2 separate regions of the Homo sapiens genome follow, and region 1 is linked to region 2. Evidence: fine-mapped expression QTL. Tissue or cell type: aorta. Region 2 holds a variant in brackets; the other region holds the start of a gene. All regions are shown on one strand. Distances are between the middles of the regions.

Region 1 (4,243 bases), 68 kb after region 2:
CCTAGGCCTCCCAAAGTGCTGGGATTATAGGTGTGAGCCCCCACACCCAGCCCAGGAACATTTCTGCTTTTGCTCTAGGGGCATTTTCAACTTTCTCCTGGGTTCGGCATGGGCCTCTGACTTTAGCAGTTTTTGGCAGCTCCTGGCCTTGTTCCTGCCCACCCCTCCACTCAGATGCCAAAGATTTCCTAAGTGATCCTATTCGTAGGCAGCTCTGAGCCTTTCTCCAGAAAGCCTGCTTTTAGGCAATAGGAAAGGGGGAAAAAAGTGAATTCTTACCAGGAAAAAATGAATCACAATCATCCATCCCCATCCTCCATCCAGGGTTTTAGTGTAAGGTTGGACCTTCCCCTCCCTCTTCAGCATGATGCCTCTTCTATTTTAAATGCAGAAGATCCCTGTGATAAATCCAAGACAGTTGATTCAGTGGACCAGAAACTAATCTAAACTTTTAAACTTTTTATCTGAAAGGGAACGTTCATACATTGTTGGTGGGAATGCAAATTAGTTCAGCCACTGTGCAACGCAGTTTGGAGATTTCTGAAAGAACCAAAAATTGAACTACCATTTGACCCAGTAATCCCATTCCTGGGTATATACCCAAAGGAAGATAAATTGTTCTACCAAAAAGCCACATGCACTTTTATGTTCACTGCAGCATTATTCACAATAGCAAAGACATGGAATCAACCTACGTGCTCATCAACAGTGGGTTGGATAAAGAAAATGTGATACATAGACACCATGGAATACTACACAGCCACCATAAAAAAGAACAAAATCATATCCTTTCCAGCAATATGGATGCAGCTGGACCATTATCTTGAGCAAATTGATGCAGAAACAACCAAATACTGCATGTTCTCACTTATAAGTGGGAGCTAAAAATTGGGTACATATGGACATAAAGAGGGGAACCACAGACACTGGGGACTACAAGATAGGGAGGGAGGAGGGTTGAAAAACTCCCTATTGGATGCTGTGCTCACTATCTGGGTGAGGGGTTCAATTATACTCCAAATCTCAGCATCAGACAATATGCCTTTGTAACAAACCTACACATGTACCCCCTGAATCTAAAATAAAAGTTGAAATGTAATACAAAACAGAAAAAAAACCTCTTTCCCTATGATATAAAACCACTTGTAATTTTTTTTTAACCCCTCAGTTACAGATGAAGTCTGCCTGATGCAACTAAGGACTTAGTTACCTGGAAAGCCTGATCTCAGTGACTGTGGGGTGGCCACTCCTAGAACTGTACTCAGTGTCCCTCCCCCCAGGTCTGCAAGCCAGTTTCTTGGAGAAGCTGTGCGTCACCCTGCTGGTCCTCCGGGTGAACTCTTAAGAGAAATAGAAAGGGAAGGCGAGCCTTGAGTTTAGGAATTCTCCTTAGAAAACACTTGCTAAATGTAAATATTTTTGGAGCTAAACAGACATGACAACGAAATGCGATACCCGCTTATTGAATATATCCTAGATCAGAAAAAAAAGTTGTAAAAGACAGTTTGTGGGGACAGTTGGGGAAATTTGAATATGGACTGTATAATACAGAATACTGTACCAAGGTTAACCTCTTGGAACCTCTTCCACAAGAGAATATTCTTAGGAGATACATGCTAAAGTATTCAGGAGTAACATGACACTATGCTACCTTCTCCCAATCGGTTCCGTAAAATAAACAAGTGTATATAAAGAATGATAGCAAAAAGAAAATGTAAATGTTCTGAGGAAGGGGGAACAGTACTCATTATTTCCCCTGTCGGGTCGAAGGCTGACTGTTTCTAACTGGAAAGGAAAGTCAGCTGGCAGGGTATGCGGAATGGCCATCTGGTGAGCAGGCTGGGTGGGGAGAGATGCCAGTCGTTGTTAGAAAACCAACCCAGCACACAGTCCCATTCCCATCTTACCTTTGATGTGGTGTTCAGCAAAGAAATCCTCCACAGATGGGGCAATTAAGGAAGAAAAATAAATTACACCGTTTTCTGGAATGTTACTCTTTTTCTAAGGCATTTCATTTTGCTGCATTGTGAAAACAAGTGAGCATTGTAAGAGCCAAGGAGGGCTCAGACGATTTAGGCCCTCCTGCTAGTGGACTTTACTTCCTGAGGGGAGGAGGAAAGACTGTGATTTGATGTCATCTCAGGCCCTCCCTCCACCCACAGTCACTCAGAAGGTAGAATTTTTTGCCGCAGGCTCAAAAGCAAGCATGAAGTAAACTAAGTGGAAAGTCCTTTTGGCGACTATGCTCAGGGCAGGGGGATGGGGCTCCAGAGCTCTCATACACTTGTCTTCAAATTTCCTCAGGGAACTTCTCACAACATGCTTATTTTACAGGAGAATATAAAACTCCTGGATGGGTGGTGAGAGAGGCATTTCCTGGGCCACAAACAGAAATCTTCAGTAAGCTCAACCCATTCGTGTGGCCTTTTGTATATTGACTAAAGATTCTGGTTACTAATTTGGGGTTTCAGACCCCATTTTAATTGCATTTTTGAGATCTGATTACCTCAACCACCTCCTGCAAAAGACGTATGCTCGTAGTAATTTTAATGAGATTTTTTTTATTATATTTTGGAAATGGTTAAGGCTGAGACCCCTAGAAAATTACTGGGATAATTCAACTTTCTCTTCCCATTTCCTCCCTCTACCCTCCACATAAAACAAAACAAAACAAACAAGTCAAATGGGAAATTGTCTTTCGTCTCCCACACCAATATTCCAGATTTTAAACCAGAGTATATTTTAGACGAAAGGATGTGTTTTTAGTTTTATCTGGAAAATCTGCACATATTTATGCATGTTCCTTTTTAAGAAGCAAGAGGCTTCTCAGATTCTTAAAATCAAACTCTATAATACTTTTTGATTAAAGTGCTTGCAGAAGGACAGCTTAGTGGTTTGGGAGGGTGCCCTGTAAGTGTAAGCATGGAAGGATTATGCAGTTACATGATGCTGGTGGCAAGGATCAAATAAACATTCAACAGAAGGAGAAAACCCAAAGAGAGAAGGCAAATAAATGCTTTTCAGAGAGCTGTTTGTAATTATGAATACACTCTAGACAACTTTTTTTTTTTTGAGACAGAGTCTCACTCTGTCGCCCAGGCTGGAGTGCAGTGGTGCAATTTCGGTTCACTGCAACCTCTGCCTCCCGTGTTCAAGTGATTCTCCTGCCTCAGTCTCCCAAGTACCTGGTACTACAGGCGCATACCACCACGCCCAGCTAATTTTTTGTATTTTAGTAGAAACGGGGTTTCACCGTGTTGCCCGGGCTGGTCTCAAACTCCTGAGCTCAGGCAATCCGCCTGCCTTAGCCTGCCAAAGTGCTGGGATTACAGACGTAAGCCACCGTGGCCAGCCTGAAAACATTTTTTAGTAAACAAGACTGATTTATTTATTTTTTTGGTGGCACGCTTGTTGCTCTTTTAAAGCAGGGCTATCTATGATTTCTTTTTTTCTTGAGACAGGGCCTGCTCTATTGCCCAGGCTGGAGTCAGTGGCATAATCATGGTTTACTGCAGCCTTGACCTCCCCAGCTCAAGCAATCCTCCTACCTCAGCCTCCTGAGTAGCTGGGACTACAGGCATGCACCACCATGCTCAGCTAATTAATTTTTTTTTTTTTTAAGAGATGGGGGTTTCACTCTGTTGCCCAGGCTGTTTGCAATGTCCTGGGCTCAAGCGATCCTCCCATCCTGACCTCCCAAAGTATTAGGATTACAGGCATAAACCACTGTAAGGAGCCAGCTATCCATAATTCTAATCACAGGATGAAATGATGCTAGGCTATATATATATTTTTCTTACACACACACACACAGAGGAATATATATATACACACATATACATATAGGAACATATACAACTGGGAAGTTAGATTTCAGGAGGGTTCCTACCATTCCTTAAATGATAATAGTGAATCATTGTGCCTAACCTATGTAAACAATACATTATATATGTGTGTATATATTCCTATTCATCTTTGTCTTATAATAGGCTTTATATTGATAGAGAACTCTGATGCTAATGCCTGGGGTCAGATTTGAAATGCGGCAGAACAGCAAGTCATTCATAGAGGCCAAGAGGACAGCAAAGTAATCAGAGATGAACTTCAAACATATGTTTCATAGAGGCACATGAACAGAAATGCAGGCTTGGTGATAATCTCAATTTTGTCAGTTTTTAAGCCCGTAGACTCTGGGCAATTTACTCTCTTTGAGTCTGTTTCTAAAACTCTAAAGCGTAGCTAA
Region 2 (4,231 bases):
AATGGAAAAAAAAAAACAAGATCCCCAGGTGATTTTGATTTTGATTCTGACACCAGTTGACAAACCTTAACCTACAAAATACAGTCCTTCAGAGCCCATTATTCTACACCCCCTTTTGTTAAACATAAAAATCTCACCACCATCCTCAAGAAGACAATGGTTTTGCTGCAGAACCTCTGGAACTTCTATATTTACCTATATTTATCCAGTTTTCCTAGTTTGAGCTTTAATTTCTGTAATTCATATTATGAAAACAATAATTTTATTCTCATTCTTGTTATATAAATGTATAAAATTGAATCTATAAATTAATATTTTATGTAATGTGGTTTTAAATATGCATGTTTGTAAAATTTATAAGTTAAATTGCAACAGTAGGAATACATTTTTCATATGCAATCCCCCTTCAGATACACATTGTTCCCTTCACCATCCCCTTCCATGCCTCCAGAGAACGTAATACTCTGCCTCACTGTGTTGAAAACCACTACTTTAGCTAGTGAGGGCTCCCTAGAGATCCCTGTTTGTGCTGTTATCTCCACCTGGAAGACTATTTGTTTCTTTGACAAATATTTGTTGAAAATTTAGCACGTGCCAGGCATGGTGCTATGCGATGTACCCCCTCCCCCCATAGAGAAGTAATCGATTCTTTCTCTGAGGGCCACAGGCCCTGAGTGTGCACTTCTATAACAGCCTCTCCACTCCATGATATAGTTAGCTGACTCCTTCACTACACTGTGCAGCCTCTAAGGTCAGGGACTACATCTTGTTCATCTTTGTATCCGTCACTGGCACAGTGCCCAACACCCAGTAGGAACTCAATTAATGTGGAGGAATGAGTTAATAAACCAATGATGATAGTCCAGTGTCTGGCACAGCATAGATGACCAATAAATATTGGTTGAAATGAAATTGAATTGAAAGTGCAGGTCACAGAAACAAGGGCAGAAAGAATTTAAAGAAAGAGGAGTTGTGACACTGTCAAAAAGATACCAAAAGATCAAAGAGGGTTAGCACTGGGGTGAAAAAGAAAGAGAAAACATTGGATTTGATGAAACTGAATTTAATATTAAGTCCTAGCATTAGCAGCGATGGACAAAACATTTATCACAAAACCAACAAGATCAGTATTTAATTGTCTTCAGCGTGTTCATGGTACTTCTTTAAATCCAGTTACTAGGTATGTAAGTTCCTGTGAATGGTGCAGGTTTATTATGCCTCACTCTTTACTACATAGCCAGTTAAAATGCTCACACATAAAGATCTACTCACACTTGAATTTTAGGTTTAACAATAAAATTGTATTTTCTATGAAAAGATGAGACCACCAGCTAAGGTGTGATCACCCCAGATACTTTCTCTCTCCATTCATTCACCAAACAAATGTTTACTGTGCTACATACTGTGCTGAGTAGAGTCCATTCTTCAGCTAACTGTGCAGGTTCTATTTGTAGAACTTGTTTGTGCTTGTGGCGCCATTTAAAACATTTTAAATCCTAGACTTGCCTGGATTCCCAAGGCAGCTTGACTCTTGGGAAATTTCTCTCTCTCTCTCTCTTTTTTTTTTTTTTAAACAGAGTCTCACTCTGTCACCCAGGCTGGAGTGCAGTGGCGTGATCTCGGCTC[A/C]CTGCCACCTCCACCTCCACCTCCTGGATTCAAGCAATTCTTGTGCCTCAGCCTTCCAAGTAGCTGGGACTACAGGTGTGCACCACCACACCTGGCTAATTTTTGTATTTTTAGTAAAGATGGGATTTCACAGTGTTACCCAGGCTGGTCTCAAACTCCTGACCTCAAGTGATTCGTCTGCCTTGGCTTCCCAAAGTGCTGGGATTACAGGCATGAGCCACCGTGCCTGGCCAATTCTTGGGAAATTTCTCTTAGTACACATTTAGAACACTTCCTGCCATTTGCTGCTTCCAGAAACAGCACTAGCATTGGCATCCAAGTTGTCTCTCTTAAGTAGAAGTGCTGCCCCCAGTAGGTCCTGGTTTATATCCTGTGGTCAAATAAGTTGAGGGCTTCTTTACTGCAGGATTTGACAGTCTTTTATATGAAAATATGTGTGTGGGGGGTAGAGATGGAGGCTTAAATAATATGGTATAAAGTGTTTTCTAAAGTCATTTGACTTTTTACTCAACTTCATTTTATAGGATATTTGAAAATATTATCATAGATTACGTTCATTCATTCACTCAGCAACAATTTTTGTGTGCCAATTATGTGCCTGGCAGTGTGCTGAGACTGGATAAAATGGTGACTAACCAGACATACTGTCCTGACATTATGAAGACTTGGGGGGAGATACACATGAATCAAATGCACTAAACTGTAAATCAAATAATCATAAGAAATATGAAATTGTAATTTTGACAGGTGCAATAAAGAAAAGTCACATTACATGGCCAAATGAGAGCCTATAATAGGGAGCTTCAGTCTGGTCAGGGAAGGCTGCTCTGAGGAGGTGACCTGGGGCTGACATCTAAAGTATGAGTAGGAGTTCACATGGGGATGAGGGTGGAGAAGAGCATTTGCCCCAGGATGGGATAGAAAGAAAGCCAGTGAAAGAATGGAGAGCAAGATGAGGCTAGAATGATAGAAAAGGCCACACCATATAGGGCGCTATAGGCCATGTTGGGAATTTGTTTTTATCCAAGGAGTATGGAAGCCATTCAAATTGCTGAGTGGAGAACTCATCAGAGGTGAGCCAGAGTGAATCTAGGTGAGCTGTTTAAAAAGCTATTGAAGTGGTTCAGGATGGTGGTAACTTAGCCTAAGATGACGGTGGTGGAAGAGATGCTGAAAAAAATCAATTCATGTGTCTAGATCAATCCCTCTTCTACAAAGCAGTTGAACCCACACAGAGCTGGCTTTGTAATAACTCATAGATAACCATTCACTTCTCCAGAAATCTCCCCTCTGTACCTAAAGGATTGGGAATGGGGAAAGAAGTGGTCTGCTGTTACCTCAATTCATTCAAGCAAAGCATTGTGCAGAAACATGTCTTAAAATTAGAGATGTTCTCTGGAACATCTATTATTAGGATCTAAAAAGAGCCCCAGGACTCTCTTTCCAGCCTAACACCCACCTGTAACCATGCACTTTGGGGCCTACCATTTACTCTTCATGACTGCAAGTTTGATTTATGTACCTGGGAATTTCAAAGCTGGGAGGGATTATAGAAGTTATCATCACCCTCAACCATATGCAAAAATTCCTATATTTCTGAAAAACATCTCAAACAAGAGTCAACTCATTCTATACCCAATTATACTAATTATTAGCATCACAAATACAAGTCTTTCATCCTGTCCCCAAGCCTCTGGGGTCTTTAGAGTTTAAGCATCATCTCACAACTGCCCATAGCAATTCCTGACATTCTTACAGTTACCTACTCTCTTATTTACTCACAACAACTCCAGTTTACAGAGGGATTAGGTGCCATGCCCAAGGTTACACACTAAGGACACTTAGAGTCAGCACCCCTCATAAAACATTGCTTGGAATGTAATCAGAATTCTATACTGTGCATTCTGTACTGTCTGGAATGTTACAATGAACACATATAACTGGCCTGGTTTTCCCAGTCTGTGCTGGTCTACTTTCACTAAATTTTTATACTTGACAACTTTTTTTTTTTTGACAGATAAAATTCTATGTATTTATCGCATACAAGATATTTTGAAGGCTTAACTTATAAATATTTATATTTTAATTATTCATTGACTAATTTTTAAGTGTACCTGGTTTTTGTCCCCATATAAGCAAATTCTGGGTAGGAATCATATCATGATTTTCTCCCTGTATTTTAACTATTAGGCACATAAAACATGATTAATAATGATTAATTAGTTGATTTATTAAAGGAAATCACAATTTTATTTTTTTTTTGAAACAGAGTTTCGCTCTGTCACCCAGGCTGGAATGCAGTGACGTGATCTTGGCTCACTGCAACCTCTGCCTCCTGAGCTCAAGTGATTCTCCTGCCTCAGCTTCCCGAGTAGCTGGGACTACAGGTGCCCACCACCATGCGTGGCAAACTTTTGTGTTTTTTGTAGAGACGGGTTTTCGCTATATTGCCCAGGCTGGTCTCGAACTCTTGACCTCAAGCAATCCACCCGCCTCAGCCTCCCAAAGTGCTGGGATTTGAGGTGTCAGCCACCATGCCCTGCCTGGAACTTACAATTTAAAAATTTCATGGCAATACTGCTTTTACTCATGCTACATATATACA

Alleles and levels. Positions count from the first base shown, and alleles are read on the strand shown. Sizes are in standard deviations (SD) of each study's normalised expression.
As copies of A replace C in region 2, the expression in aorta of the gene that starts at base 2,069 in region 1 goes up (small effect, 0.26 SD a copy in GTEx).

What was found. PIP is the estimated chance that this variant, and not a neighbour inherited with it, causes the effect.
Region 1: it holds the start of SLC16A4, and the variant in region 2 is the best candidate, but not a certain one, in a credible set for the expression of SLC16A4 in aorta (GTEx, PIP 0.69).

What each region holds. Positions count from the first base shown.
Region 1 is chr1:110,388,958-110,393,200 of GRCh38, forward strand. SLC16A4 (solute carrier family 16 member 4) reads right to left here and starts at 2,069. Exons shown (of 9, transcript NM_004696.3): 1 at 1,908-2,069; 2 at 280-398. The coding sequence starts at 366.
Region 2 is chr1:110,321,386-110,325,616 of GRCh38, forward strand. All of the region lies in intron 1 of RBM15-AS1 (RBM15 antisense RNA 1), which reads right to left. Among named protein-coding and RNA genes, the nearest start is that of RBM15-AS1, 16 kb to the right of the region's middle. The variant A/C (reference allele first, on the strand shown) is at 1,627.